7 linked regions of the Homo sapiens genome follow. The protein of the gene in region 3 interacts with the protein of the main gene of each other region in a pairwise test. Each region holds a gene or a part of one and is shown on either strand. Other genes may lie near its edges. The genes, in order: LMO3, SLC38A2, DCDC2, MYG1, KRTAP9-3, DYNC2LI1 and HORMAD1.

Evidence for each region.
Region 1: the proteins of DCDC2 (region 3) and LMO3 interact in binary tests that used the Homo sapiens proteins (3 or more experiments, as listed by UniProt).
Region 2: the proteins of DCDC2 (region 3) and SLC38A2 interact in binary tests that used the Homo sapiens proteins (3 or more experiments, as listed by UniProt).
Region 4: the proteins of DCDC2 (region 3) and MYG1 interact in binary tests that used the Homo sapiens proteins (3 or more experiments, as listed by UniProt).
Region 5: the proteins of DCDC2 (region 3) and KRTAP9-3 interact in binary tests that used the Homo sapiens proteins (3 or more experiments, as listed by UniProt).
Region 6: the proteins of DCDC2 (region 3) and DYNC2LI1 interact in binary tests that used the Homo sapiens proteins (3 or more experiments, as listed by UniProt).
Region 7: the proteins of DCDC2 (region 3) and HORMAD1 interact in binary tests that used the Homo sapiens proteins (3 or more experiments, as listed by UniProt).

What each region holds. Positions count from the first base shown.
Region 1 is NC_000012.12:16,599,663-16,603,162, reverse strand, and holds part of LMO3 (LIM domain only protein 3), read left to right. Parts: intron 1-2,294; coding exon of another isoform or gene 2,295-2,302; coding exon 2,303-2,508; intron 2,509-3,500.
Region 2 is NC_000012.12:46,366,274-46,369,773, reverse strand, and holds part of SLC38A2 (sodium-coupled neutral amino acid symporter 2), read left to right. Parts: intron 1-2,433; coding exon 2,434-2,507; intron 2,508-2,605; coding exon 2,606-2,698; intron 2,699-2,828; coding exon 2,829-2,910; intron 2,911-3,500. UniProt on the Homo sapiens protein: Symporter that cotransports neutral amino acids and sodium ions from the extracellular to the intracellular side of the cell membrane.
Region 3 is NC_000006.12:24,351,560-24,355,059, reverse strand, and holds part of DCDC2 (doublecortin domain-containing protein 2), read left to right. Parts: intron 1-1,436; coding exon 1,437-1,491; intron 1,492-3,500. UniProt on the Homo sapiens protein: Protein that plays a role in the inhibition of canonical Wnt signaling pathway. May be involved in neuronal migration during development of the cerebral neocortex. Involved in the control of ciliogenesis and ciliary length.
Region 4 is NC_000012.12:53,302,695-53,305,185, forward strand, and holds part of MYG1 (MYG1 exonuclease precursor), read left to right. Parts: intron 1-339; coding exon 340-499; intron 500-2,491. UniProt on the Homo sapiens protein: 3'-5' RNA exonuclease which cleaves in situ on specific transcripts in both nucleus and mitochondrion. Involved in regulating spatially segregated organellar RNA processing, acts as a coordinator of nucleo-mitochondrial crosstalk.
Region 5 is NC_000017.11:41,231,007-41,233,954, forward strand, and holds KRTAP9-3 (keratin-associated protein 9-3), read left to right. Parts: upstream 1-1,442; 5' UTR 1,443-1,495; coding exon 1,496-1,975; 3' UTR 1,976-2,448; downstream 2,449-2,948. UniProt on the Homo sapiens protein: In the hair cortex, hair keratin intermediate filaments are embedded in an interfilamentous matrix, consisting of hair keratin-associated proteins (KRTAP), which are essential for the formation of a rigid and resistant hair shaft through their extensive disulfide bond cross-linking with abundant cysteine residues of hair keratins.
Region 6 is NC_000002.12:43,780,539-43,784,038, forward strand, and holds part of DYNC2LI1 (cytoplasmic dynein 2 light intermediate chain 1), read left to right. Parts: intron 1-2,981; coding exon 2,982-3,016; intron 3,017-3,500. UniProt on the Homo sapiens protein: Acts as one of several non-catalytic accessory components of the cytoplasmic dynein 2 complex (dynein-2 complex), a motor protein complex that drives the movement of cargos along microtubules within cilia and flagella in concert with the intraflagellar transport (IFT) system, facilitating the assembly of these organelles.
Region 7 is NC_000001.11:150,700,728-150,703,895, reverse strand, and holds part of HORMAD1 (HORMA domain-containing protein 1), read left to right. Parts: intron 1-502; coding exon 503-586; intron 587-3,168. UniProt on the Homo sapiens protein: Plays a key role in meiotic progression.

The sequences.
Region 1 (3,500 bases), on a different chromosome or scaffold from region 3:
CAAAAACATTTTGTGAAGACAAGTAGGGTAGTGTTACTTGTGCCAAATGTTGGTATCCCCTGTCTTGGTTGCAAAGCATTTTGAATAAAACAGCTGACCTTCTATGCTTGATGGTAGAAACACAACTGTGGGAAATATAACTTAGCTGCTACTGGGATTTTTTTTTTTTTCGATTTTTCATCTTTGAGCTTTGTGATAAATAAAAATAATAGCCTTACAAATTTAATAGAATGGCCGTTAATTAGGATGGCTTAATTAGAATGGCTTCTCTTAATATTTATTATCTAGGTGTTTTCAGTAACACCATCCAGAATTTCACTGAGTAAATCAAAACTTCCCCTTCCCCCTAGATATGTGGTTAACAGGCACTTGGATCTGTTGTTCACTGTAATTAATGGGATTCACTCCTTGTGGAACCTTGCTAGAAGAGGATAACTAGTTCTGATCAAAGAAACTTCATTTGTTAGAAGTTCTAGAGAGTGAGATTTAGCAGAGCTATCAAGGGTTATGATTAATCTACACTAGGCCCTTAGCTCCTTCAAAGGAAAGGAACAGAAAGCAGGCTATAGGGATACCACCTGCTCTTCTTACAAATCCAGCTGTTAGTCTGCAGCTCCGGTGACTACAGCTATGCTTATGATGCAGAAAGAAAGAACAGCTACTCTGCTTTATTTCCTGCCATTCCCTACACAACTCTACCAGACGAGTTATTTTCTAATGAAAGTTCAACATCCTAACAATATTTTGTGCAACTCATGTATTATTTGTAGTTAGAAAAGTTATTCCGCTCTGCGGATGCCTTGATGTCTCTTACCAGTGGGATTTTTTTTTTAAAAGGTTGTGAAAGTTGTGATGGGGGTGAAGCCTTCATCATAAGATATCAGAGGAAACTGGAGGAGGTTTAGCTGTTTTGGAGAAGGAAAATGTACAAAAGTGCAGATTATAGCTTGACATTTCTTATCCTATAATGCATGCACATTTGGTGTTTTGTATCCTTCTACATGCAAGTTTAAAACTTTATGCCTAGGAGAGCAAACATAATGCAGCAGAAGGGTCTCTGGACTGTAAGAAGGCCATTTGGCTGGAGTCTATAGCGTAACTGTCTTTCAGCTTTGAGCAAGTCTCTGAACCTCTCTTGGGCCTCGGTAACATAATTTGTAAAATGAGGGAATTTGGAATTGATGATGTCTGCAGTACTTTATAGTGCTTAAAATGAGTTATTTGATAAATATGAGGCATTGGATAGTTGGTCCAGCTTCTTGCTAAAGCTGGGTGTTTTAATACCTAGGAAATAAGAAGACACTCAAGGTGAATGTCCATTCATTCAAAAGATTTCAATCAAACTGTAAAGCCCATGGAATCCAGCTGGATTCCTTATTTATGATGGATTTATACCTTTAAAATATATAAATGTTTCTATGTTTAGCATAGTATACATATAACATGTATATATTTACTTATATATGTTTGTATAATTGTATATATATTTAGATCTTGCCTTCTATTGTTTTTTCTTTCCTTTATAAAACAAATAATTGCATGTTTATGGTAATAAATGGTATAATCATATACTTTAGGTTTACATAAAAGCATATAGTATATAGTTAAGTAATCTGCCATTAATATAGGTGCTGACTGATGCTTGTGAGTATAAATGTTATATTTGAACACAATGAATACTTTGAAATATCAAGGACATAGAAGAAGTATTTGGATGCAAGCAAGAAATATAGGATTGGTGAGCTTTTTGGGTAGCTGTTCTGTGTACTTAACTATAAACACCTCTACTGCTGAATAAGGTTAGTGTAACCCCATACCAGGTGCCCTCTCCTTCCACCATCAAGCACATATTAAGTGAAATTTTTAAACAGTTAAGCAAAACTCATTTTTTTACTTGTAGGGACTGTGCATAGATTAATTTGTTAAATAGCTTTCTTTTCAGATTGTTATTTACTCACATTTTCTTTCTAAAGGAACTGCTCTATGGGGAGAATGAAGATACTATAAAATTATTTAATGTTATTGAACTTCATATTTATAATGTCAATTTACCATGGTCAACATGAATTTATTATTATTGTCACTTGGCATGTGTAACTTTTTGAATGATTTAATAAGCACTTGATAAAGTTTGAGACTTTTTGTTTCCAAAATTGGGTTTGATTTCAGTATAGCCCTAAACAAGAAAAGCTAACACTCCTAGAATAAGGAAATATTAAATATTTAACTTGTTTGAGGTCTTTTTATTCTGTCTGGTAGTCTCAGCTCTCTTTTTTGCTTTTGTCTTCCTTTAGGTATACAAATGCTCTCAGTCCAGCCAGACACCAAGCCGAAAGGTTGTGCTGGCTGCAACCGAAAGATCAAGGACCGGTATCTTCTAAAGGCACTGGACAAATACTGGCATGAAGACTGCCTGAAGTGTGCCTGCTGTGACTGTCGCTTGGGAGAGGTGGGCTCCACCCTGTACACTAAAGCTAATCTTATCCTTTGTCGCAGAGACTATCTGAGGTAGGAATTATCCTTGCACACCAGTGATGACTGGATGCCTTTTAAAGTACTTTTGTAAGTGTATTTTTTGTTTGCTTGTTTCATTTCCTTACTGCCAGCTTATATTCCTGAAAGAAGTTACCTGTCAGCCTTCAAAGCGTTGCCCTGTGTGTGTTACTCAAATTAATGCTTAAGGAATAGCCAACAAACCACAATATTTAAAGTATTTCAATTTGGCTTGCCTGCACACTCAGGCAGTTGGTTATGGCGCTGCCTATGTTGAAACTGCCAGTTAATGTCAAGGATGTATTTGGTCGAAATCAGCATTCAGGTTGATTTACTTATTTTTTCTTTTTTTTCTTTTTTTTTTTTTTTTTTTTTTTTGGAGCTTAAGGGGGAATGGGGGTTGAGCATAACACAAAGAAATTGATCAGCCATTTGGCAAAATATCTTAACTATTTTTAAAAAGTTCAACTTGAAAAAAATGGACTGTGTAAAAGAGTTTAATTGTTGCCTCTAAGTTGGACCTGAATTTAGTCTTCTAAAGTTATTCAGCTGTCTTCTCTGTTTCAGGTGTGTCAGAGGAAGTCAGGTGCAAATCCTTGGTTAATATCTATTAGTGCATTTATTGTAGAGTTTTGAAAACTTTCCCCAAGTGTAGATACATCTTCCTCTCGCCCCACCTCATGACATTCTAAACGGGAATCTCAAAAATACAACTAAGCAATTGAACCGCCTCAGACTTGCCAGTAGTTTTATGGATAATAACAAAGTAAAGACCTCCATCATTATAGGAAAATGACAGCCACTCTCCAACCTGTAAACATCTGAATGCTTTCAGGACAAGGCAGGTGTTCTTGGTTATGGAGCTATGAAGCCTACTAAAGCTTGTTTTCCAGCATTAAGTACTCAACACAGAATTTCTGCTGAAGGAAAATTATTTTGCTTTTCAGGCAACTTTGTGACTTACTTCAGCTGCAAATTACTTATATTAATAAAGTAGGATCTATCAA
Region 2 (3,500 bases), on a different chromosome or scaffold from region 3:
TTAGCCATTTTTGCGTCACTGACTCTTGGAGAATATGATAGAAAAATGTGGATCTTATTTCCAGGGAAAAAGCACAAAACAAAAATACATGCAATCTTAAGCATGTATTTTTCAGTGATGTTTGTGTCATAGCCCTTAAGTTTAAGTACCCGTGGACCCCTGGCTAAGGCAATTTCTGTGGAGGATTGTGTAACTTAATACCTTCATTGTACAGATAAGGAAACCATATGTATATAGCATGGAATTGTCCCTTTGTGACAGATGTGTTTTACTTAGCTGATTGGTGCCTTCTACTCAAGTTATTTTCTCCAGCACGATAGAATGTTCATGAAAAGAAAAGCAGACCTTTGCAAATCTCTGCTTTGTGAAATTCCACACTGAGGTTAAGCCTGGCTTTGAGTACTAGATGCTAGGATTCACTCTGGCTTGCTTCAATTAGGATGAGGCTTTTTGAGAGAACTCTTACTAAGGTGAAGGACCAGCGATTTACGTAGAATCCTAGAATCTCAGGAGTTCTTAGTGGAGAACCTGAATGGCATCACTGTCGAATATTTGAAATCCTTGTTAGCACTTGGTATAAAAACTGGAGGCAGTTTTAGAGTGCAGCCAGTGTAGTTAAAGTAAGAATTGAAATGATACTAAATGGCACCTCTGTTTCATAAGTGAAGGTCAAATTCTGATGTAACCCTTGTACTCTTGGAATTATACTTTAATAGGTGCTTATGTCATTGATTTACCATTTTGCTTAATGGCTAAATAAGATTGCTAAAGTGTGATTTTATTCATCAGTACTTACTTTATATTTAGAGGTATAGAGGAAAATGGGCCAAAAACCACATGGCTGCCACGGTGCACTTCAGCAACCCTGTAGCTAACCTGTTTAAGTAGAATCAATCTGAAGGTTGAAAGTGACCTCAAAGGTTATAAAGTCTATTCATCCCTTGTCATTTCAGTATAAGACATGGAAGGACTTAATTTGGTTTGTTTTTAATTAAACCAACATATTTTCTCCAGTTAGAAGTGAGGTTGATAGTGTCACTTCAGACTAGGTCCTGTAAAACTTCTGGCATTTAGAATGGTAGTGTAAAGCCACTTCCTCTGTTTAACTAATAGACATCAGTTTCTTTGTCAGCACCTTACATGGTACTGCGTGCAGTTTGTTCATACGGAATTAAAAAACATGTAACTCTTCTCCTTTGCAAGGTTTTCTATGAGTTTCCCTGTTTTGTTATTTAATTTCTTTAAAAAATTAGTCTGTATCTCTGGGCTCTCCTAGGTGGAAGGAAAGTAAAGCTGGAATGAGGGAGAACCCTTACCCTAAAGGAAAATTAGGTGACATTAGGGTCCCTTTAGTCACTCTATGTTACCTTATTTATTTATTTTTTTTCTGTTGCTCAATCCAAGTGAAAGGGTCAAGGGAGGAAAGGCTTAGAGACAGTCAAGCTGATAGCCTACTTGTTCTAGCACAGACATTGTTTAACTGTGACAATAGTGGGCCTGTATTCCTTGCCATGGGGTGCAATGTAGTATGTCATCACAATGGTTAGTTCTCTGATTTGTGCCCAGTTGTTAGTAAAGCTTGTAGTGCCTCTTAAAATGTTAGTATCATGTTAGTGTCATTTCCCCCTTACCATTCTTTTCCTTTTCTTTCTTTTTTTTTTAAAAAGACAGTATTTCATTTTGTCCTCCAGGCTGAGTGCAGTGGCAAACTGCTGGGCTCAAGTGATACCCCCACCTCAGCCTGAGTAGCTGAGACTATAGGTGTACACCACCACAGCTGGCTTTTTGTTTTTCCTTCGGTAGAGATGTGGCTTCCCTATGTTATGTTGTCCAAGCTGATCTCGAACTCCTGGCCTCAAGCAGTCATCCTGCCCCAGCCTCCTAGAGTGCTGGGATTACAGGCATGAGCCACTGCACCTGGCCTGTCATTCCTGTTTTTGTGTATACGGTCCATGTGGTCTTAAAACCTTTCCTGAACGTGTCTCAGTTGAATTTCCCAAGAACCTTGTGGGCTGGGTTTAGTGGCGGATATTACTAATATTTTACAGATAAGGGGAACTACTGAAATGCAGAAAGGTGGCAAGCATACAGCTCATTATTGTGGTGCCAGAATCAAAATACAAGTTTCAAACTCCATCACTGGGAAGTTGAGCTTTCCAGTGTCTCATGCTATGTTTGGCTCAGTGGGTAGACATCCTTGTTCCTAACCAATGCTGTAGAACTATCACCTGAGAAATGATGCAAGTTTTTACTGCCAGCCAAGAGACAGTGTTGCCATTCCAGTTAGTAGGAGAGGAAATGCCAGTTCTTCAGGGCATTTTGACACAAATAGGACAAGTTGCACACATAATGTTATTTAAACATCCAGAAAGAGTTGTCTTTAAATATAGCCATGCTTATTTATAACCCTATGCCTTTTCCTTCTCTCACCAGAATTCTCTTGACATTTGTGTCAATATTTTCCCTGTATTCTGTTCATCTCCTTTTGAAGACTGCCAATGAAGGAGGTATGATAGCATTCTTGATTTTTCTAAAACAATGTATACCTATCATTTTATTTCTCTTTTAAAATCCTTGGCTTCATGCTTCTGTCTTCAAATTGTAGGGTCTTTATTATATGAACAATTGGGATATAAGGCATTTGGATTAGTTGGAAAGCTTGCAGCATCTGGATCAATTACAATGCAGAACATTGGAGGTAAGAATTTTTCAAAAGATTATTTGGGTAGACTTTATGCTCATTGTGGAGCACAGAATGGTGACACATGCGTTTTAGTGTCACGTGCCGCGTTTTGCACTTGTAATGGTATAATTTTGTTTTCCTCCAGCTATGTCAAGCTACCTCTTCATAGTGAAATATGAGTTGCCTTTGGTGATCCAGGCATTAACGAACATTGAAGATAAAACTGGGTAGGTGCTAAGTAAGGTTACTCATAAGAAACAATTATAGTCAAAAGTGGTTAGATACATTTTTATCAAAGTTGTATACAAAATGATTAGTTAATTATCCATAAATGTTCCTTTTGAAACTGACCAAGAAGGCCCCCCATCCCCGTAAACTGATTCGAACTTTGGAGAAGGAAAGGCCGAAAGATAGTAGCTAGCCCTACAATTTTGGATATCTTAATTTCTAAAACAGGTTTTCTAGAACTTGCTTTCTGTCTTTATGTTCATACTTAAAGAAGTTATAGGTGTTTTTAATATATATCCTAAGTGAGGACTGAAGCTTTGAATTACATTAAAAATTAATCCGTCTTATTTTTGTAAGTTTGGAATTCTTAAGACTTAATCTGTTCAATGCAAAATACAGGCTGGACATCCCTAATCTGAAATCCAAAACTTTTTGAGTGCCAACATGACACTACAAGTGGAAAATCCACACCTGATCTCGTGACAGGTGTGCAAAATTAATTAAAATACTGTATAAAATCACCTTTAGGCTATGGGTTTAAGAAGGTGTATAGGAAACATAAGTGAATTTTGTGTTTAGACTTCAGTGC
Region 3 (3,500 bases):
ATTTGAAACTTAGCACTTATAAGTTTATGTAAAGAATGGAGAAACTGTCAGAACAAAAGAAAGCCCAAACGATATTGAGGACAATTCGTGGGCTTTCATTTAGACCCTAAATGTTGGGAAAGACAGCAACATCTTTTTCAAATGGAACTGATCAAATCGCTGCTTGAATTGCTTTCACTTAGATTTTTCTAATATTTTTGAAACGATAACTAAACATCAGGTAGCTATTAAACCCTTATTTATTTCAAATGTGAGACCATACATTCACAACCTTTATTTTACAGCAGAGGATTCTAGAGAGTATTTCCCCCAAAACTTTCCCTGTGCATTGTTGGAAGTTGACTCTGCAGCATTAATCTTGTGGATCTGAAACCACTTTCCTGCACATGACAGAATATTTTGGTATTATTTCAAAACTCAGCCCCTGCAGGTCCACAAAAGACCCATTTTATTGCTAAGACGGAGTGTTTGCACTGTTTTAAAAATATGACTACTTTTATATAGGGGCATTGTATGACAATTTCCAGAGATATGAATTAACTAAAGTATTTTATCCAAAAAGGCAAACAGCAACAATAAAAACATTTCAATAGCCAAAATTAATTCTAACATAAGCTTTTTTTGGGACAAGTTGGCAATTGTAGTAGTTGGGGTAAAGGATTGATCTATCATTATAAATTATATGTTAGATTTATACTTTTTAATATTAAAATGTTTATTTAGCACATTTTATGTATGAAGCACAGTTTAGGGACCATTTAAAACTGGAACCACATCACAGTGATATTACACGTGAAGTTGACAAAGGTATACAGTTTTCAGGTTGTGCTTATGTAACAGCTAAAGAATGATCACTGTTAGTATCTAGAGCAAATAGTAATGGAATAATAGGGGTCTCCAGAGGTTAACTAGTCCACCCATCTGTTTCTTAGCTGAACCAATTACCAAAGTCATCCCACATGAGTGAGTGTTTTTGTATCATTAAGGTGCTCTCATAGAGACAATAATTTCTCAGCCTTTCCCAGTTGTTACCCTAATGCACGCTATCAGTACTTCCTTTGACCTAAAGCCTGTATTTAATGGAACAGTTAAGCAGCTTTGCACATAAGCCACTCTTTTAAAAAATCAAATCTGTAAGAATATAGTGTATATAGTAAGCAGCTAACTATTAAGAGGGAAAAATGTTCTCTAATAGATGTATGTATTTCTAAGACTTTCCTTCTCTTGAAGTTTAGGGTAGACATATGTCAGCTCTGGTTGGTGACACTGCAAACAGTTTTTACTATTGTAATTGCTTTTCATTAGTAGCTATTTGTTTTTGCTTTAAGGTTGAGAATTTCCTATGAGTTGCTTTATTTTTTTATGATTTTTAAAAATAAATTACTGACTTAAAGTCTATAAAAGCAACTCTTATTGTTTGTTTGTTTTTTCCTCAGTTACTTGGACATAGGAGAAATCAAGAAAAGACCAATGGAAGTTGTTAATACAGAGGTAATGCAAATATTATTTTGAAAATTCAAATAAATAACGGTGCCATTTGTTTCTTATGGTGTGTCTTAGAGATTTGGACGGCATTCTACTTTGATGAGTTCTCTAATGTAAAGAAATGGAACATTATATGTTTTAAGGCAAAGATAATTCTTTCTTTGAATCATTGTCAGAAATGAAAAGACTGAGTAGATGTTCTAAGATGTGCAGGATATGTCAAGATTAGACAAAACATATTTTTCTCTTTTCTAGCTACATGTTCTCTGATTGAAATCCATGGGAAGGTTCCCTGTCAAGTGAGAAGATTCTGAGCGTTGTTAAATAAATCTTTACCAAAGCTACATCCTCATCCTAATGTGCCTCTGATAACTCAGTGTTTGATGTAGCCAGGGTCACCCTAACTGCCCCTGAGGCTTTCAAAGGAGATGAGTAGATGTCACGTTGGACACTTTGTGATGTCAGGAAAACACCTGTGTTTTAGCTTCTATCGAAGTACGAGTTAAGCATAGTTCGTGAAAGCTTATGTGAAGGTTGGAAAAGGAGCTTGTGAAATATTCACAATACCGCATTCCACGTAGCTTCTGAAACCCTGGTGGAGTTTTAGGTATTCTGTAGGATGTATTCTTTAGTTTGTGAATGAAAAAATAGATTAAAAACAAAGTTGGGGCCACAGCCTGAGACAGGGAAAATTGTAGTTAGATCCAGAATAGGCCTCTGTTCACCAGCCCAGACAGCCACTCTTCCCATTCAGACCCCAAATAAACAAGTGCTTCCAATGGGTAAGTGCTGCCAATGAAGAAATGGCCAACAGGAAAAGTAGTTTTTCTCACTTGTAGTCCAGAGCCCCAGAGGGACTCTCCTCAACACTCACCATTTCCTCTCACATCATGTTTGTGCCTAATAGGACCAAATAGGCCCCTCTAGAAAAAATATTGCGTAAGAAAAAAATTCTAATTGTACAGTATTTGAAGAATATGAGGTTAAATTCATTATTCAAATAATCTGTAGAAAGAGGTACCCTTCCTAGACATCATTTAACATAATTAATATTTTGGCTTGTATTTTCAGTGCATCAAATTGATTAGTCATGAAAGTGATAGGCTTTGTAGCTTAAAGTAGACAAAGGTATACAATTTTCAGGTTGTGCTTATGATATAGCTAAAGAATGACCACCAGTTGATATCTGTCTCAAGTAGAGTAGTAATAAAGGGCAGTGTTGTGAATTTGTTCTGGATGTGATTCTGATGAAAGGATACACACCTGTTTAAAGTATACTACCTTGCATGAAATTGGTGAAGAAACCTGGACTTCCGCAATAGAATTTGAGATGTGTGAATTCCCAAAAAATGTGAGCACAGTATATTTACTCTGGATTCCAGTGTCTTTGCTGAAGACATTATCCCTAGTAAAAGACAACAGGTGTGCAATAGATTTATCGAATATACTTTTTTCTTAAAAATTTTTTTTTGAGACAGAGTCTCCTTCTGTCACCCAGGCTGGAGTGCGGTGGCTCGATCTCTGCTCACTGCAACCTCCACCTCCTGGGTTCAAGCGATTCTCCTGCCTCAGCCTCCTGAGTAGCTGGGATTACAGGCACGTGCCACCACACCTGGCTAATTTTTTTGTTTTTCGTAGAGACGGGGTTTCAGCATGTTGGTCAGGCTGGTCTTGAACTCCTGACCTCATGATCCGCCCGCCTTGGCCTCCCAAAGTGCTGGGATTACTGGCATGAGCCACCAAGCCCGGCCTTAAAATAGTATTTTTAATAACAGAAGCATTCACAGAAACTCCAGTTCATTTAATTTGCTTATTGTTCTTCCACTCTGGGGACAGTAACCATTGTTTCTCTTTATTTTGCACTTACACATGAGCCAACGTACAAGATCCTTATTTATGGATGCACACCTTACGTGTGAAAAACCTACCCCTTGTCTCCAAATGAAAGACTGCATCTCTTTCATCCTGCTTCCTACTGGTGACTCCCTCCCACTTACTCCTTTCCTCTTGCTGCC
Region 4 (2,491 bases), on a different chromosome or scaffold from region 3:
TCTCTGCTTGGAATGCTTTTTCTCTTTCACCCCTTGTCTATCTGGTGGACACCCACTAATTCATCTTTCAGAACTGACCTGAAGGCTCTCCTCTGAACCCTTTCCTCATCCCTTCCTTCCTTTCCCTTGTCTCGTCTAGTGAGAGTACTCAGGGGGTTGTGTTTGTCGGCCTCCGGCAGATGAATCTGAAAGCAAGGACAGTGTCTTGGTTTTTTATCCTTAATGTCTAATAAAACATAAAATGTGGCAGATAGGAAGCATTGAGTTAACCATTGAATGAATGCATGGAGACTCTAGCCAAGGTCCCTCACCTCAGCCCCACCTCCCTATGCTCCTCAGGTCTTTCACAGAGACCATGAGCTCCCTGTCCCCTGGGAAGCCGTGGCAGACCAAGCTGAGCAGTGCGGGACTCATCTATCTGCACTTCGGGCACAAGCTGCTGGCCCAGTTGCTGGGCACTAGTGAAGAGGACAGCATGGTGGGCACCCTCTATGACAAGGTGGGGACCTGAGGACAGAGATGCCCCCCACATGCATTTCCAGCAGGCCGCCTGGGAGCAGTGCTCACACAGCACTCAGCACTGGGCCTCGGGTCAGGGTTCCTGGCCTATAGCAGGCCCAACACTCATCCTCTCCCTCAGTCAGGCTCATCTCACAAGGGAATGGTGATACCTCCCCTGTCTACATCCTGGGGTGGTTGTGAGAAGTGGATGCTGTAATATATGGGGAAGGGCTTTGAAAACCATAAAGCAGCATGGCCCCGTCTTTTTATTGACACACACAAACAGCAATTGCTCAGCACCTTTGGGTAAACAGAGGGGAGGCTGCTTATGTGTGGAAGCAGATGGCTCAGAGGTTCTGGCTGCCCTGAAGGTTGAGGGGAGTGTATGTTAGGCACCACTGTAGTTCACTAGTGGCACATAAATTGGGAAGCTCAGCTGAGAAGAGTTTTATTATGAAACTGTCTTTGGATTCCACCAGTGTCCCCTGCAAGCAGCTTCCTGCTCTTAGGGAAAGAATATGGCTAGTGGCCCTGGCATGCAAGTCAGGTCGCACAGTACTGAGGACACTTACTTGTTTACAAGTCAAAGCCCAGGTTCAGTCAGCTGTATTTCTTGCAGGTAGGCTGTTGAATTCAGTTCTCAGTTTTTTTGTTGTTTTTTGTTTTGAGATGGAGTCTTGCTCTGTCGCCCAGGCTGGAGTGCAGTGGCGCAATCTTGGCTCACTGCAAGCTCCGCCTCCCGGGTTCACGCCATTCTCCTGCCTCAGCCTCCCGAGTAGCTGGGACTACAGGCGCCCATCACCATGCCCGGCTAATTTTTTGTATTTTTAGTAGAGGTGGGGTTTCACCGTGTTAGCCAGGATGGTCTTGATCTCCTGACCTCGTGATCTGCCCACCTCAGCCTCCCAAAGTGCTGGGATTACAGGTCTGAGCCACTGCACCCGGCCCATCAGTTCTCAGTTTTAGCTTGCCCATTTTCTGCCCTCTGTAACTATAGAGTTTTTGGAATATCAAGATTTTAGACTGCCTGGGTCAGTTTTCCCTTCCACTGCTGAAGGGTTTCTAAACAACTGACTAAATTTTTGTTGTTGTTTTTTTTTGTTTTTTTGAGACGGGGTCTTGCTCTGTCATCCAGGCTGGAGTGCAGTGGCACAATCTCAGCTCACTGCTACCTCCGCCTCCTGGGTTCAAGCGATTCTCCTGCCTCAGCCTCCCAAGTAGGTGAGATTACAGGCGCCTGCCACCACGCCTGGCTAATTTTTTATTTTTAGTAGAAACGGGGTTTCACCGTGTTAGCCAGGCTGGTCTCAAACTCCTGACCTCAAGTAACGCACCCACCTTGGCCTCCCAAAGTGCTGGGATTACAGGCGTGAGCCACTAATCCCAGCAACAATTGACTAAATTTAACCCGTATTTTTTTTTGAGAGACTGTTGCCCAGGTTGGAGTCCAGTGGTGCCATCATGGCTTGCTGCTGCTTTGAACTCCTGGGCTCAAGCAGTCTTCCCACCTCAGCCCCCCAAGTAGCTGAGACTACAGGTGCATGCCACCATGCCTGGCTAATTATATATCTTAATTTTTTTGTAGAGAGGGTCTTGCTATGCTGCCCAGGCTGGACTCAAAAACTCCTGGGCTCAAGTGATCCTCCCACCTCAGCCTAAACCCATGTTTTTTTTTTTTTTTTTTTTTTTTTGAGACGGAGTCTCGCTCTGTCGCCCAGGCTGGAGTGCAGTGGCGGGATCTCGGCTCACTGCAAGCTGCGCCTCCCAGGTTCACGCCATTGTCCTGCCTCAGCCTCCCAAGTAGCTGGGACTACAGGCGCCCGCCACTACGCCCGGCTAATTTTTTGTATTTTTAGTAGAGACGGGGTTTCACCGTTTTAGCCGGGATGGTCTCGATCTCCTGACCTCGTGATCCGCCCGCCTCGGCCTCCCAAAGTGCTGGGATTACAGGCGTGAGCCACCGCGCCCGGCCTAAACCCATGTTTTAACT
Region 5 (2,948 bases), on a different chromosome or scaffold from region 3:
ATTTCTGAACTGTGAAAAGATAAATTTAAGCCACTTGGTTTACAGTAATTTATTATGGCAGTGCTGGTAAGTTAATACACTTACTAAGTATCCTGAGCTATAGATATATTCTGCTACACTATATGGCTTAAAGATAATTACCCCTCACCAAATAGTAACTCCTTTCTCTGTCTGCTGCTCTGCTGACGGGAAGAGTCCAAAATGACTAGGCGATAACGATTCCTTTTGATTATAACAAAGAAACAGAGAAGCAAATACTATAATTTTTATTCACATGGAAATTTTAAAAAGCCAAAGTCATCTACTGGATTATAACTTGATAGAGTGATTAGCTGTTTGGAAATGAGTAAGCGGATATAATTGGGAGAGAATGGCATTAATTTCTATTTCCTAACCTGGTAATGGGGACATAGATGTATTTACAATGTAATACTATATCAGGTTGGAAATTAATAATTTGCATTCTTCTCAAGTGAATGATATACCTAGACAATGTTTTCAACATGTTAGAACTCCACGATGAATCAGGTGTCATCTCAACTCATCTAATCCCTTCATTGAAAAGAAATAGAAGAAATTACTTCTACTTACTTCTTCTTCTAGTTACTGCTAGTAACTAGGTTTAGGGCTAGAGCCACAGCACATGCTGGTTGGCCTGAATTTCAACGCTTACTTCTAGTTACTGCTAGTAACTAGGTTTAGGGCTAGAGCCAGAGCACATGCTGGTTGGCCTGAATCTCAAGAAGTTACGTGATAGAAAGTCCTCCATTCTCATCCCGGAAATCCCCACACTCCCAGACAAGTCAGAATGAATGGTCGTCCTAGGGCATACATTGCTTGATGCTGTCTAAATCTCAGCAGATTTCTCTGCATCCACCTGTTCTCGATCTGCTCTGTCGCATGGAACACACTGTGCAGTCACCGTCTTCCCAAGTGACATTCAAAGAACTGAAAGACACAGATGATGTGGGTGGCACAAAGAGATGCCTGTTAGTCTTGAGTCAGAATTTGGTGGGTGAATAGTCTTGGGCCCAGGCATGGATTCATTTTGTCACTGTAAATATATCAGCATCATGCTTCTCCCCACAGACACTTCCAAGTCTATATACAGCCAAACATGAGGCTGGCCAGAGAGAACTTCCTGAGCCCCCCGGATCAACAGGAACTGTCACATGACCAGATGATGGTCAGAGCAGGAATGATGCTGATGATGAGACGGGCTTCCTTTTATCTGAAACAAACTTTCTATGAGTAACTCACAATTAAGAAACAGATTAAACCCTTAGTTTAAAAGGTTCATAAGATTTCAGTAACAACTTCCCCTTTGACAATCCCAAATGGACTGTGGAAAACAATGTAAACAGCAACAAGGAAAAGTCCTGCTGATTGGTGGAAACTTTGGAGGCCAGGTGTATAAAAGGTCCAGATTGCAAGGGGTCATCAGATTTTGGGAAACTCACCTCTTAACAGAAGCCCACCCTCCATCCCTGACACCATGACCCACTGTTGCTCCCCTTGCTGTCAGCCTACCTGCTGCAGGACCACCTGCTGGCAGCCCACCACTGTGACCACCTGCAGCAGCACACCCTGCTGTCAGCCCTCCTGCTGTGTTTCCAGCTGCTGCCAGCCTTGCTGCCACCCAACTTGCTGTCAAAACACCTGCTGTAGGACCACCTGCTGCCAGCCCATCTGTGTGACCAGCTGCTGCCAGCCTTCCTGCTGTAGCACACCCTGCTGCCAGCCCACATGCTGTGGGTCCAGCTGTGGTCAGAGCAGCTCCTGTGCACCTGTGTACTGCAGAAGAACCTGCTACCACCCCACAAGTGTTTGTCTGCCTGGTTGCCTAAACCAGAGCTGTGGCTCCAACTGCTGCCAGCCCTGCTGCCGCCCAGCCTGCTGTGAGACCACCTGCTGCAGGACCACTTGTTTCCAGCCCACCTGTGTGTACAGCTGCTGCCAGCCTTCTTGCTGCTAATCAACTCCCAAGAGAACTACCATCCTCACACAACAACCTTCAGCTCAACTGACTTGTCTTTTGAGGGACTAATTTACTTTGCTGCTGACAGCCACCATGCTCTCACCCAAATTTTTATGAATTCTCTACATGTTTAAAATCTTGGGAATCTGCTTGAGGGAGGGCAGAATACTTCATCCTCATTCCCTCTTTCCTTACACCTTGTGGATCATGTGCCAGCTTCGTCTGTTCTTAATTTGGAGTCATGATCTCAGCTTTGTCTCAAAAATCAAGAGCTTCATTCTTTGCTTCTAAGGAATTTAGGTTTCTGCAACTGATCAATCATCTTTGCAATTATATTTTCATTTTAAATATCCTTCTCATGGTTCTTGTATCCTTCTTTCTTCTTTTCACGATAACTTTGGGTTATGTCTCTGGTAGCAGAGATTCTTACCTATATGTTTCTGAATAAACTCTGAACCATCTTCATCTCATATAGTGTTTTGTTTTATTTGAAAGCATTCCTGATATGGGATTTACACACATATCACATACCATAGGTATTATCCAATTTGATTCTCAAAACAGATGGTCGTGTATTATTAACTCCATTTTTTCAGCTGAGAACAATTTAATGTGTGATGTTATGTAGCTAGTAAAGGGCAGACTCTGGTCAAAGGTGAGGTCCTCTCTTTCTGCCCAAGGACACTTACGTTTAACTCCCAATATAGTAGAAAAGACACTGGAAGTCAGCACTAGCAAGACATGTACTTGAGTTTATTTAACAATGAGAGGAATAATCTGACATATTTGCAGATAACACTTTTGTTCACACACAAAAAAATCCCAAAGTAGTTCCCCACACCTCAGTGAGCAAAGGCTGCATGATATGCATTTAATGGCTGCCCTGAATGCAGAGATCTTTTTGTCTGAGCCTCTGACCAGCCATTCATTCAATTCATCTGCATCAAAAAATGCTTGAGAATTTATTGTG
Region 6 (3,500 bases), on a different chromosome or scaffold from region 3:
AGTGAGAATAAATAGCTTCGTTTAACAAGGCTGCAGAGGAAGGGGTTCAGGGTAAGTCATATTTTAGTTAAGGCCAACATGTGGAGAGAATATTCTGAAAAGGCTGAGATATTGGGGAGTTTGCCAGTCATGGAGCTGAAGTCATAGAGTGGAAGGATTTTAGAGGAAGGGAAGACAGAAGGGGATTATTGGGCCAGATTAAGGGATGTTTACAGAGTTAGGAAATTCAGAGTTCCAGGGATAATGGGTCAGAGGAGAGGGCTGGACATCTGGGGCGATTGAGGCAATGGGAGGGAAGATGGGATTCATTTTGATGGTCTCTAAATGAACTTGTACTAGGTCAATGTTTCTTGAATTAGGAAACCCACAAGACTACAGCCACATGCTCAGGGGACCAGAGTGTACTAATGAATTTTTAAATTTTGGATTGTAATTTTAATGATAATCTAAAACTTGATTTCAGTTCCCAGATTAGTTTATGTTAATTTGGAATTGTTACCATATAGTGCTATACATTTATATGAAATAATAATAAAAGTGATTTAAGGCCAGGCGTGGTGGCTCAAGACTGTAATCCCAGCACTTTGGAAGGCTGAGGTGGGAAGATCACTTGAGGCCAGGAGTTCAAGACCAGCCTGACCAACATAGTGAAACCCCATCTCAACTAAAAAATACAAAAAGTTACCTGCACGTGGTGGTGCATACTGGTAATCCCAGCTACTCCGGAGGCTGAGGCCTAAGAATCACTTGAACCCAGAGGCAGAGGTTTCATGAGCCAAGATGGTGCCACTGCACTCCAGCCTATGCAACAGAGGGAGACTCTGTCTCAAAAAAAAAAACAAAAAAGGCGAGGGGGAGTGATTTAAATCAATGAATACTAGTGTACCATGAAAATTTGAGGAAATTGGCTAGATATTATTTAAAATTCCTTCCAATTCTTATTCTACTTTCTTGCAGAGTACATTACTTTTTGGGTAATGTAGCCCTTATTAATTTAGAACTTTTACAGCATACTACATATGATACAAGTTCATTGTAGGAAAATTAGAAAATCCTGATTTTCTTTTTCTTTTTTTTTTTTTGAGACAGAGTCTCGCTCTGTCGCCTAGGTTCGAGTGCAGTGGTGTGATCTCGGCTCACTGCAGCCTCTGCCTCCTGGGTTCACACCATTCTCCTGCCTCAGCCTCCCAAGTTGCTGGGACTGCAGGTGCCCACGACCACGCCTGGTAATTTTTTTGTATTTTTAGTAGAGTTGGGGTTTCGCCATGTTAGCCAGGATGGTCTTGATATCCTGACCTCGTGATCCACCCGCCTCGGCCTCCCAAAGTGCTGGGATTACAGGCGTGAGCCACCATGCCTGGCAGAAAATCCTGATTTTCTTAAAAACTTTAATTACCTTCAAATCCTTCAGCTAGAAATAATCATTATTAACATAGTGATGTCCCCCTACATTTGTGTGTTTGTTTCTGTCTATGTGTGTGTGTGTGTGTGTGTGTGTACTTCAAGGAAGCAGGAAAAGTATTTTTTAATTGAAAACAGAGACATGCTGATCTATTATGAATGTTTTACTATGTCAGTAAGTATATTTCTACATTGTCATTCATAATAGCTGTATATTATTCTATTATATGGTTTACCATAATTAATTTAGCCAGTAGGGGACATGTAGGTTGTTTTTAGTTTTTCAGTTTGATGTAACACTGGCCAATAAACATCCTTCAATAATATACATTTTTATATTGTACAATTCCAGTTATTTTTTAATATATCTCATTACAAAAAATTTACTCAATTTGATCGTATTCCAGATATAATCTGGAGTAATTATCTTTTTTGTCAAAAACTATAGGTTTTTTTAGTAAAAACAAAAACACATATAATAAGTGTTCTGTGTTTTTGGCAATCCAGAGTTTTCCAAATTATTTTCTTTAGAGCCTGAAGGTTTCCTCCAGTGGAGCTTGTCCTGCTGTTTCTCTTTTATCTGTTTCCTTGCAAGGGGTCTTTTCTTTAAAAAAAAAAAAAAAAAAAGGATTTTACTATTTTTTAAAAATGATATAAACCACTGAGCTAATCCCTGGCTAAGCTGTGAAGTTAAGTTGCCTGACTAGTGGTAGGAATTAGGCCAGAACTTGTATTTCCTTACTCCTAAAAAGAAACTTGGGGTTGGGCATGGTGGCTCACACCTGTAATCCCAGCACTTTGAGAGGCTGAGGTGGGCAGATTAGATGAGGCCAGGAGTTCAAGACCAGCCTAGCCAACATGGCAAAACCTTGTTTCTACTAAAAATACAAAAATTACCCAGGCATGGTGGTGTGCACCTGTAATCCCAGCTACTTGAGAGGGTGAGGCACGAGAATCACTTGAGCCCAGGAGGCAGAGGTTGCAGTGAGCCAAGATCATGCCACTGCACTCCAGCCTTGGCAACAGAGTGAGACTCTGTCTCAAAAATAAAATAAAATAAAATAAAAATAAACAGAAACTTGGAATAAGTACATCCTCTGGACTTAAAACAAATTACTCTAATGCAGTATCTGAATTGCTTACTTTGAACATATTTACAATGTGTCCTTTATTTGTATGTTACCTTTTTCTTTATTTCCACTTCAACAATTGGAATTAAAACATTTTAAAAGACACTAAGCATCGGCTTAACCAGTAATTAACATTGATGAGTAGAGAAAAAATTTAAGACAGCTGCCAAGTTGACCACTTAAGTGAGGTATGATTTGCTAGTATTTGTCATCTGTGGGACTTTATAATTATAATAATAGCAGTGTAGTTACACTGTGATGGAAAGTTGACAGTTAACTTTTTCCACTTATCAAACTTTAGAACAATTCCGAAAGTTTCTAGTTTTTAGTTTCCAGGTAATTTATCATTCAATTGATTAAAAATCTATTTTGGGCCACAATTACGAACAATAATACAATTTTTACATATGAGTGACATTAACGCAGTGTTCCTTCTTTTTTAATTTCCAGGGAAAGACTACTATTATTCTAAGGTGTCTTGACAGGTAAGTGTTATGTTAACCTTTAAACTATATTTATGCTTATTCTAGTTGTATAGGGCAAGTTAGCTCTAAAAGACATAAGGAAGGGGAACGATTTTGAGACCCAAACAAAATATTTAATTCTTAGCAAATCCTTAGTATAACCTTTAAGAGCGCCTTTAAATATAAAACTAACAATAAGCCAAAAATTATATGAGACTAATACTGGATTTCCCTATTTGAGGGAGAAATGTTACCATAATTACCCAACCTACAATAGTATTTACCTTCTTTTTGGCTATGCTACTCTGATATTTAAATTATTTTTGTTCTACCTAATCTACAATTATTTGAACATTCATTGTAAGCTTTAGTTGCTCAGGGGTACATTTTTGAAGCACAGTGTTGGTCCTCAAACTGGATATTTTATCATTTATTTTATATATTTCCTAACGTATACTGTAGAAGCAGGCCATCAGATTAAGATTTAGCAGTATGATTGGTAGAT
Region 7 (3,168 bases), on a different chromosome or scaffold from region 3:
TCTGAGAATTTCAGAGCTAGATAGAATCTTATGCAGTTATTTATTCCACCCTGCTTTGTATTTATAAGTGGAATATATAATACATTTGTGTTGCCTTGGAGCATACATGTTTTATTCTGCTTTTCAAATACAGTAAAATCCTGAAATAAGAGATTTAGGTAATATGAACTTGGAAAAAATATGATTGATGATTGATTGTCTGTCTTCCTCTGCCCAGCCCATTTCTCAAATAAGTAGACTAAATTTCTTGTCTTCTGGAAGGGTGGTGCCTGGTGATCATTTGGTACTTTCTCAGTTCAGTGGTTGGCCAATTATGTAAAGTGTCAGTTTCACTATCTTTACTTTTGTGCTTTTTGAACAGTATGAACCAACTCAAAATTATTGGTTTTAACTTGACAAGACCCTAAATTTTATGTGGTTAAATTTTTGGACCCCATTTATTGTGTTATGAAAAGGTTTTATTATACTAAGTTATATTTTTTGTAATTATTTTCTTTTTTAGGTTGAGCAGTTAGTCAATAAAACATCTGAACTTGATATGTCTGAAAGCAAAACAAGAAGTGGAAAAGTCTTTCAGAATAAAATGGTAAATATCTCTTTAGGTTTGTTTTCCATTGTAACCTTGTAATTCTCCCCCATATGTGAGTTTATTTTAATATTTCGTTTATTAAACCAGTATTTACTAAGTACCTATTATGTGTCAGGTACTTTACTAGGTGCTTAGGATATAACCTGAATAACACATACTTCATGGTCTTAGCTGAAGTTTAGTAACTGGAAATAAACAAGCAATGATACAGAGCCATTATAGAAGTCTGAATAGGCTACATAGGCACAAAGAAAGGAATGGTTAATTTTACTGAAGGTATATTAAAGAGAGGGATCCGGGAAAGGTTTTGGGAAGAAGTGATACTATCATCCAGACTCCCAGAGAAATTTCCTAGAATGCCAGAATGTTCCCATGCTTGATCTTTTTTTCTTTTTAAATTTCATTTAATTTAAGTTCCAAGATACATGTGCAGGACGTGCAGGTTTGTTACATAGGTAAACGTGTGCCATAGTGATTTGCTGCACCTATCAATCTATTACCTAGGTATTAAGCCCCACATGCATTAGCTATTTATCCTAATGCTCTCCCTCCCTCCAACCCCCTGACAGGCCCCAGTGTGTATTGTTCCCCTCTTTGTGTCCATGTGTTCTCATTGTTTATCTACCACTTATAAGTGAGAACATGTGGTGTTTGGTTTTCTGTTCCTGTGTTAGTTTGCTGAGGATAATGGCTTCCAGCTCCATCCATGTCCCTGCAAAGGACATGATTTCATTTCTTTTTATGGCTGCTTATTTTCTTTATCCAGTCTATCACTGATGGGCATGTGGGTTGATTCTGTCTTTGCTATTGTGAATAGTGGTGCAGTGAACATACAGGTGCATGTATCTTTGTAATAGAATGATTTATATTCCTCTGGGTATATACCTAGTAATGGGATTACTGGGACAAATGGTATTTCTGGTTCTAGATCTTTGAAGAATCACCACACTGTCTTCCACAATGGTTGAACTAATTTACATTCCAACCAACAGTGTAAAAGTGTTCCTATTTCTCCATAGCCTCGTCAGCATCTGTTGTTTCTTAACTTTTAATAATCACCATTCTGACTGGCATGAGATGGTATCTCATTGTGGTTTTGATTTGCATTTCTCTAATGATCAGTGATGTTGAGTGTTTTTCATATGTTTGTTGGCCACATGAATGTCTTCTTTTGAGAAGTGTCTGTTCATGTCCTTTACCCACTTTTTAATGGGGTTGTTTATTTTTTCTTGTAAATTTGTTTAAGTTTCTTATAGATTCTGGATATTAGACCTTTGTCAGATGGATAGATTGCAGAAATTTTCTCCCATTCTGTAGGTTCTCTGTTCACTCTGAAAAATATGGAATGCTTCATGAATTTGCATGTCATCCTTGTGCAAGGGACATGCTAATCTTCTCTATATCGTTCTAATTTTAGCATATGTGCTGCTGAAGTGAGCACCATGCTCAGTCTTATAAATTGAGTATCTTGTTAATAAGACATTACAAAATAATCTTTTGTATATATCTTGTATAAAATGAATCTCATATTCTTAAGGGAAAAAAATCACTGCTTTATTTTAGCTTTTGGTATGAATTATACTAAATCAAAATTCATATTTGATTTTAGACCTTTAAGTTACTCTCAAAGGTTCATTGGGGTGAAGAAAAAGCATTCTGTAAAATATATAAAATATCTAAAGTTTAGGAAATAAATAGCTCACTCTGTTAGTGGTGTGCTAGAACATTTATTCCCAACTCCCCACTCAGAGATATCATGTTGGTAGCTTAAATTGGACATGTTGGTAGTATTCACAGCACAGAAATCAGCAAATGCCTCAAGGTTTGTTTCTCTCCTAGAGCTGGTTATTAAACATTTATTGGAACACTACTCATTATAGTGCCATTTTTAAGTGTCTTCCCCCACCCCTATTCTCAATGGGAAGTTAGAACTGGCAGAAGGCAGCATTCAAATGAGTATCTCATGAAAGCAAGAGATAAAGGAATGTCAAGATTTACTACTTCTAGAAGCAAAATGTTCATCCTAGCCAGTTTATATGTAGGATGAATAACCTTTACTAGGATATAGGGATAGAGACCAGCATTTTAAAAATTATTAAGCAAGATCTCCTTGTAATGTAACATTAAGATGATTTAGGGACATAAATTTATTTCTGAAATTGCACATGTTTTTGGATATGAACTCTGAGCAAGTGTACTCCTGATTTTGAGAATTATTACTGAATTGTGGTTAGAAAAGGGCAAGAAATGAAAATATTCATTATTATATATACTAAGGAAGTTATCATTGGAAAGCTCATTTCAAGCATCAGAAAAGAAGTATATCCTTTTAGAGAATAGTTGTATGACACCTAATCATTAGTCATTTTCCAATATTCATTTTAATAACTATATATACAGCATTATTCACAATAGCCGAAAGATGGGAAAAACCTAAATATACATCAACAGATGAATGGATTAAAAAATGTGGTATATTCATACAATTGAATATCAGCCATAAAAAAAATGAAGTGCCAATACATGCTACAACTTAGATGAACCTTGAAAACATGCTAATTAAAGGAAGTTACTCACAA